Linked DNA regions of Homo sapiens. The protein of the gene in region 2 interacts with the protein of the main gene of each other region in a biochemical or structural test. Each region holds a gene or a part of one and is shown on either strand. Other genes may lie near its edges. The genes, in order: PEX5 and NUDT7.

What was found.
Region 1: the proteins of NUDT7 (region 2) and PEX5 interact in a test that uses a peptide from one of them, tested with the Homo sapiens proteins (one large-scale study listed by BioGRID).

Annotation. Positions count from the first base shown.
Region 1 is NC_000012.12:7,206,501-7,209,455, reverse strand, and holds part of PEX5 (peroxisomal biogenesis factor 5), read right to left. Parts: intron 1,798-2,955; coding exon 1,654-1,797; intron 1,447-1,653; coding exon 1,376-1,446; intron 1,000-1,375; coding exon 787-999; intron 452-786; coding exon 286-451; intron 1-285.
Region 2 is NC_000016.10:77,721,246-77,725,605, reverse strand, and holds the start of NUDT7 (peroxisomal coenzyme A diphosphatase NUDT7), read right to left. Parts: upstream 3,093-4,360; 5' UTR 3,024-3,092; coding exon 2,989-3,023; intron 176-2,988; coding exon 22-175; intron 1-21. UniProt on the Homo sapiens protein: Fatty acyl-coenzyme A (CoA) diphosphatase that hydrolyzes fatty acyl-CoA to yield acyl-4'-phosphopantetheine and adenosine 3',5'-bisphosphate. Cleaves CoA, CoA esters and oxidized CoA with similar efficiencies.

The DNA.
Region 1 (2,955 bases), on a different chromosome or scaffold from region 2:
CCTTCTTTTCCCAGTCCTCCCAAGGCAGTCAGTACATGGAACACTGGAATGAAATACCCCAAGACTCCAAAAGTCTGAACAAATTATTCTTTTTTGTGGGGGTGGGCAGGGTCTTGCTATGTTGCCCAGGCTGGATTTGAACTCCCAGGCTCAAGTGATCCTCCCACTTCAGCCTCCCAAGTAGCTGGGACTACAGGCATGCACCATCAAACCCAGCTTCCCAACAAATGGCTCTTCAATAAGGTACACAGTCATGTCCCATTTCCATTCCTCCCCTGGGCTCACATTGGGACGAACGCTGAGGGCAGCTGTGAAGCAGTCCACGGCCTTGTCATACTCCCCACTCAGGTTGAAAAGGACTCCCAAGCCACACTGCACATCAGGGTCAATGGAGGTAGGGTCCAGCCGCACAGCTGCCAGGAAGAGCTCTTTCACTTCAAGAAACAGGGAGCTGGATGAAAAGGAAAAAAACACAAAGTAGGTAGATGAATGTCTCTATTCCCATCCCCCCAAATTAATTTCTTCATTGATCAACCATATCCCCAACATTCATCAATCTATCAGTCATCTCTTCTACTCTCAAAGTCCAATATAGAAGCCTGTTTTTCTATTTCATCCTAGCACTGAACTGTAGAATGCAGACCTCCTTCAACTTGATCCTAGGTTTCCCATCCCATTCTCAGGACCCTTCAGTCTCAATCCATCCAAACTTCCAAAACCAAGGTCACCCTCCTACTGGGACTTAGGTTACTGTAATTCCTCATCCTAGGAACCCCTCATACTCACTCAGACAAGAGAGATCCCAGGATACGCTTGCTGGGGCCCAGTCCTGCCCCACCAGCCCCTTCTTCAGCAGGTGTCACCAGATGGGCATAGGCTGGTGTGTACCGCAGCCAGTCTCGTAGGGTTTCACAGGCCTGTCGCTGCAGGGACTCGTTGGTGAAGCTCACAGCCAGCGCCATCAGTGCTGTCTGGTTATCTGGCTTTAGCTCCAGACACCTGTTTGATCAGGGATGGGCAGACTTGATATCTGCAATGACTGACACTGGCACATGTGAGCACCCTGGGATCCAAGCCAAGCTTTGAAATGCAGAGTCACAATGGCCTCACCTGTGACTCCTCTGACATGAGTTAATAATAAAGTTACAGATCTAAGGGGAAGGTTTTAGCAGGCAAGGAGCCAACCAAAGCCGCAAATAAAATCAAAAGCCGATGAAGGAATGGAATTCACTCCAACCCTCAGAGTTTCAGCATGAGAAAACACTCTTGATAGCACTCAGAAAGAAGACAAGGATCCAGGTCTGGGCTTCTGTCATTCAAAAGGTTATATGCAGAGCCTTGGAAGCACCTCACCCACACCTTTCAGTGTACTCACCTCCGCAATGCACTGATGGCTAATAGTTCTTGTTCATTCTCTGCCTGGGTGGTACCCAGATACTGCCAAGCCTAGAGGGAAGTTGACAGATTCCATCACCCCATATTCACCTCTCCATTCGCCCTTCCCCCTGGCTTCTCCCACTCACCATCTCGCTCTCAAGCCCCTATCCTAGGCCATCACCCAGGCCCTAACCCATCTGCACTACTCTCCTTGGGGCCTTTCTCAAGATGGAGGAAGCAGTCTCTAGCCAGAAATGAGACTATGGAGTCACTCACTTCCATGTGCTTAGGATCCTGCTGCACAGCTGCCTCAAAAAGCAGCACAGCATTTGGCAGGTCCCCCTCCTGAAGGCGCCGCAGCCCTTCTTCAAAAGGCTGAGGGTGATCACGCAAGGGGTTCTCCTCCTCAAACTGGTACCCCTACAAGAAAAGCACGTGAGAGATGGACTGAGAGGTGGCACCGTCAGAACAGCAGGGATGTGAGGATGACAACCAGCAGGCAGAGAAGCTGAGGGCCTCCAAACAGGTTCCGGAATTAATTGCTGGCAAATTCTCCATATTATAAAGATCATGTATGACACAAGTAAAATCATTTGGTATCAGGTTTGTGCTCCCATCTCCTGTTCATGATACCTGGGAAGCTAGGAAAGTCTACAAATTCATCTGCGCTGGAAATAAGCTTATTTTAGGAAGTCATCACAGGCTTGTATTCCCACACCTTGACTTCTCACCACGGGGCAGAATGTCTCAACAGGATCTGCTTATAGTAATGAGACAAAGTGTCCCTAGCTATGCAAAGTGCATTTCTTGTTATCCTTCAATAATGTGATGATGTATAAAGGAAATGTTGTTTGGAGTCCTGCTATTCAAATATAACTCTTACTTAGCTCAGAGTCATTCCACATGTCAACTAGATAAAACATTTTCAAGCATTTTGAAAATGTTAATTTATTCCCCGATTTCATTCTTAATAATCATGAATATTAATCTGTATCTGACAGTAAGCAAAAGCTGGATCCCAAAATCCAGATGGCAGAGAATACTTCAGAAAGACACCATTCTCTTCCAGCTGAGGATTTCTCACTTTAGAGAAGAGTTACGATACTATCTGCAAAGCTTTGTCAACTGGCATTTTACACTAGGCAGAGAAGAAATGAGGTAAAGGGGAAGTCACTAGTAAGCTGCAAAATCTGGGACATGCAAATAAAAAGTCCGTTTTTGGAGAGTAGTTACCATCATAAAATAATACACCAGAACGAAAACAAGATGCAAAACAACAGGTGGAGGTCTTTCTAAATGCAGTTAAGAATAAATTCAGATAAAACTGTACAAAATAAAGACATGAGGCCCTTTTTCATTATTATTGTGAAAATGATAAAGAATCAAAAACACTTAAATCTTACCAGCAAAATTCTAAGTCATGATCAGATGCAAATTATTTGTCACAAATGAAAATTAAATAATTACAATGGGGGGTTTAAGAAGAAAGACATATTATAGTAGATTTGAGATAAATGTATAGAAAGTATATTTATATTGAAAACAAGTGTGTTTTTGGACATCTCTGCATAATATAAA
Region 2 (4,360 bases):
GGAAATTTTTTGTCCACCTACCTTCTCTGACCGGACGGTGAACAACAAATGGAGTTTTCCTTCTTTAGCCACCAATGGCAAAAGGACGGAGTATTTGTTATATGGCAAGTGAGAATATTTGCCTCCAATATCATACTTTCTTAAGCGGGCCTTAGCATCATCTAGCAAACTGTTTCTAAAATAAAAACAAACCAGACAGACATTTTAGCAAGCAGAGTTATGGTAAAAAGCTTATAGTCCTGCCTCTGTTTCTGCTTTGTTGTGTATTTAGGAGTTTGCCATTTCTGACTCTCTGTGTATTTTTCAATAACACGACAGAAATGATACTATCTAAATTGCGTGGTTGTTCGCAAGATGAAAATGACAAAAAAACCTTCTAAGCACACAGTTTAGTACACAGGTTCTCTTTGAAACATAAAGTATGGTAAAATGTTTTTTCAATAATGCAACAGTTGAATTTTGAAACCCATAATTATATTCAGAGAAGACAGGTTTGATGAAAAAGTCATTGTTAAGGTTAGAAGGTTAGAAGACTACCTTCTGTTAAGCTGGCCCTTATGTTCTCAAACTCTTATGTCTTCAACTGCTTATAATAGTGGTTCCCAAGCTTTAGCAGCAACAGAATCACCTGGAGCGCTGGCTGTCACATAGACTGCGAGGTTCAGTCCCAGACTGTGACTCAGTAACTCTGGTGTAGGGCCTGAGAATTAGCATTTGTATCAAACTCCCTCATGACAGCGTTACTGACGCTGTGGACAGGGGAACACATTCTGAGAACAATTTCCCAATAATATGCAAGCATTTGGATTTAAAACCGCAAATGGTGCCCTTCCTATGTGGACTTGTTTTGGTCCTTTTGACAGGTGTGTTCTACTGCTAGTTTGTATAGTGGGTTGAACAGTATCCCCTCACCCCTGAAATTCATGTCTACCCCAAACTTCAGAGTGTGACTTTATTCAGAAATAGGATCTTTTCAGATGTAATTAAAGTGAGCTCTAAATCCAATGACTGTTGTCCTGATAAGAAGCAGAAACGAGCCCAGTGCAGCGGCTCACGCCTGTAATCCCAACACTGGGAGGTTGAGGCGGGAGAATTGCTTGGGCCCAGGAGTTTGAAACCAGCCTGGTCAACATGGTAAGACCCTGTCTCTACAAAAGAAAAAAAAAAAAAGCATAAATTAGCTTAGGCATGGGGCATGCAACTGTATTCCCAGCTACTTGGAAGGCGGAAGTGGGAGGATCACTTGAGCCCCAGAGTTCAAGGCTGCAGTGAGCCATGATTGCACCACTGCACTCCGGCCTGGGTGACAGAGTGAGACCTGACTCAAAAATAAAATAAAATAAAAGAAGAAAAAACATGGAGAGATGCACACAGGGAAGAAGACCATGTGAAGATGGCGGCAGAGGTTGAAGTGATGCTGCTGTGAGCCAAGGAATGCCAGAAACCACCAGAAACTGGAAGAGGCAAGGAAAGGTCACCCCCAGAGCCTTCTAAGGGAGTGAGGCCCTGCCGATACCTTGATTTTGGACTTCCAGGCTTCATAGCCATGAGAGACCATTTCTATTGTTTTAAAACACCCAGTGTGTGGTACTCTGTTATGGCAGCCCTAGAAAAGGAACAGCTGATTTTACTTTTTCTGTGGGAAGGCAGCTTTGCATAGTGGGCAGAATCAGCTATTTAAGATACCCAGAATTGGCTTCAAATGTATATAGGAGGCCTGGTACAGTGGCTCATGCCTGTAATCCCGGCACTTTGGGAGACTGAGGAAGGTGAATCACTTGAAGTCAGGAGTTCGAGACCAGCCTGGCCAACATGGTAAAACCCCACCTCTACTAAACATACAAAAATTAGCCGGGCATCGTGGCACATGCCTGTAATCCCAGCTACTCAGAAGGTTGAGGCAGGAGAATCGCTTGAACCCAGGAGGCAGAGGCTGCAGTGAGCCGAGATTGCCTACTGCACTGTAGCCAGGGCGGCAGAGTGAGACTCTGTCTCAAAAAAAAAAAAAAAAAAGTGTATACAAATGACTTCTCTGAGTTTCATCTTCATTTGTGTCAGGCTTGAGGATATTTAAGAAGATTAAATGATGCAGTTCATATACTGTGGCTGGCACACAGCTGGTGCTCAGGGAATGGTAACCACTGTCATAAATCTCCCCATCATTAGATAAGCAGTTGTTTGCAGGAGGTATTTGCTATTTTTTGCCTCTTTCTAGGTGGCAGGGTGCTCACCAGATGTGGTTGGGTAACGGCAGTGTATTTCAAAGACCAAATGGCCTGAAAAAAATCAGTGAATGCTGGCACAGGGATTGCACAGTGCATCTGGATGCACGCAGGCCAGCCTCCAGAAAAGGAAACTGTGGGCTGGTGGCTTTTAACCACCCGGAAACCACAGAACTGACCAGACAAACCAGCCAAAGTAAAAGGCTGCAAAAACGTTATCTGTCCACTTTAGGGGCTGGCCGCTGGAATAATCACCAAGGTATCAACAGCAGTAGCAGCCACCCCGTTCTGAGCATGGTCTCAATTTTGACGTTTCTCATTTTATCCTCACAACAGCCCGGCAAGTGATCACAGGGTCACCTCCAGGCTCAGAGAGTTTACGAAACTGACAGACCCAAGGTCACAACTGAAAGTAGCCACCGGGGGACTTGAATCCGGGGCTGCCTGCTGCGGGTCTGTGCCACTGTCGGGGGTCCTGGGGTCCAACTCTGGAGACGCGGATTGCAGAACAGCCAAGCCGGCTGGGAAGGGGAGCAGCGTGTATGTAAACCATACTGGCTTAAGCCGGCTCTGTTCCTGGCCAGAGCAGTGCAAAGGTTCGGGGACCCTGCGGGTTGCTGGAGGCGAGTGCTCCCCCATCCGGCGCTCGCAGGTGGACTGGCGGGAGCTGCAAAATCAGTCCCGGCCAAAAGGCCCCGGTGGCCTCCGCTACGATCAAGGCCGGGCCTGACCAAGCTCGGGGTGCCAGGGCCCGGAAAGCCTTTACCTGACTGGCTCCTCGGGAAGACCAAGTCGTGACATTGCCCTGGGGAATGTTTGTTTCCGGGCGGACTCCTCGGAGCTGCTCGGTCGGTCGCGCTTGCGCAGAGCAGCTCTGGGCTTGGGAGCGGCCTAAAGCCAGAGAGAGGGGCGGGGCTTAGAGCACGAGGCGGGGTGGTGTCTGGGGCGGAGACAGGGGGCGGGGCGGTGCGAGATCTGGGATCGGAGGCCGGGATCGGGGCGGGGCGGGGCTTATAGCCAGAGGCGGGACTTGAGGTGGGGAGAGGCGCGGGGCGGGACTTAGGGCCGGGTGTTCCTGGTTGCTCAAAGCAGTTTCTGCCGGGCTCCTTGGGCTTCTATGGAAGCAAGAGGTATAGGAGGAGTTGTGGAATTTAGAGCTGGAAGAGTTAAAAAAAAAAAAAATACAGTGTTGGTGAGGTGATAATATTTTACACTCGCATTCGCTGTTGCTGGAAGGTTAAGGTGATTCATTCAACTTTTTGGAACTGCTGTCAGCACCTGTTCACCGACCACCTGTATGCACTGGGTGCAGATCCCACAGCTAGCGAAAAGACACGTGGAGCTCACAGTCAAATGGTAGAAACATAAATTAATCACACAGGGCTGGATGCAGTGGCATATGCTTGTAATTCCAACACTTTGGGAGGCCAAGAGGGGAGGATCACTTGAATCCAGGAGTTCGAGCCCAGCCTGGGCAACATGGCGAAACCCCATCTCTACAAAATAAAAATAAAAAATTAGCCAGGCGTGGTGGCACACACCTGTGGTCCCAGCTACTCAAGAGGCTGAGGTGGGAGGATCGCTTGAGCCCAGGAGGTCGAAGCTGCAGTGAGCCGTGATAGCACCACTGCACTCCAGCCTGACAGAGGTAGACCGTCTCAAAAATAAGAAGAAGAAGATAAGAAGTTTTTAATGCAAAAAAAAAAAAAAAAAAAAATCACACTGATAAAGCAGTGGCCTTTGGTCCTTCTAGAGCGTGTGAAGGAGAAATGTGACCCAATTAGGAGACAGAAGAGGCTTGGTAGAGGAAATAGAAGTGCAGCTCATCTTGAAAGCAGTAGTTCTCAAAGTGTGGTCCTCAGACCAGCAGAATCAGGATCACTTTGGTCCTGTTAAAAATGTGGACTCTGGGCCAGGCGCTGTGGCTCACACCTGTAATCCCAGCACTTTGGGAGGCCAAGTCGGGTGGATCACCTAAGGTCAGGAGTTTGAGACCAGCTTGGCCAACATGGTGAAACCCCATCTCTACTAAAAAAACAAAAATTAGCCAGTGGCAGGCGCCTGTAATCTCAGCTACTAGGAGGCTGAGGCAGGAGAATCGCTTGAACCTGGGAGGCGGAGTTTGCAGTGGGCCGAGA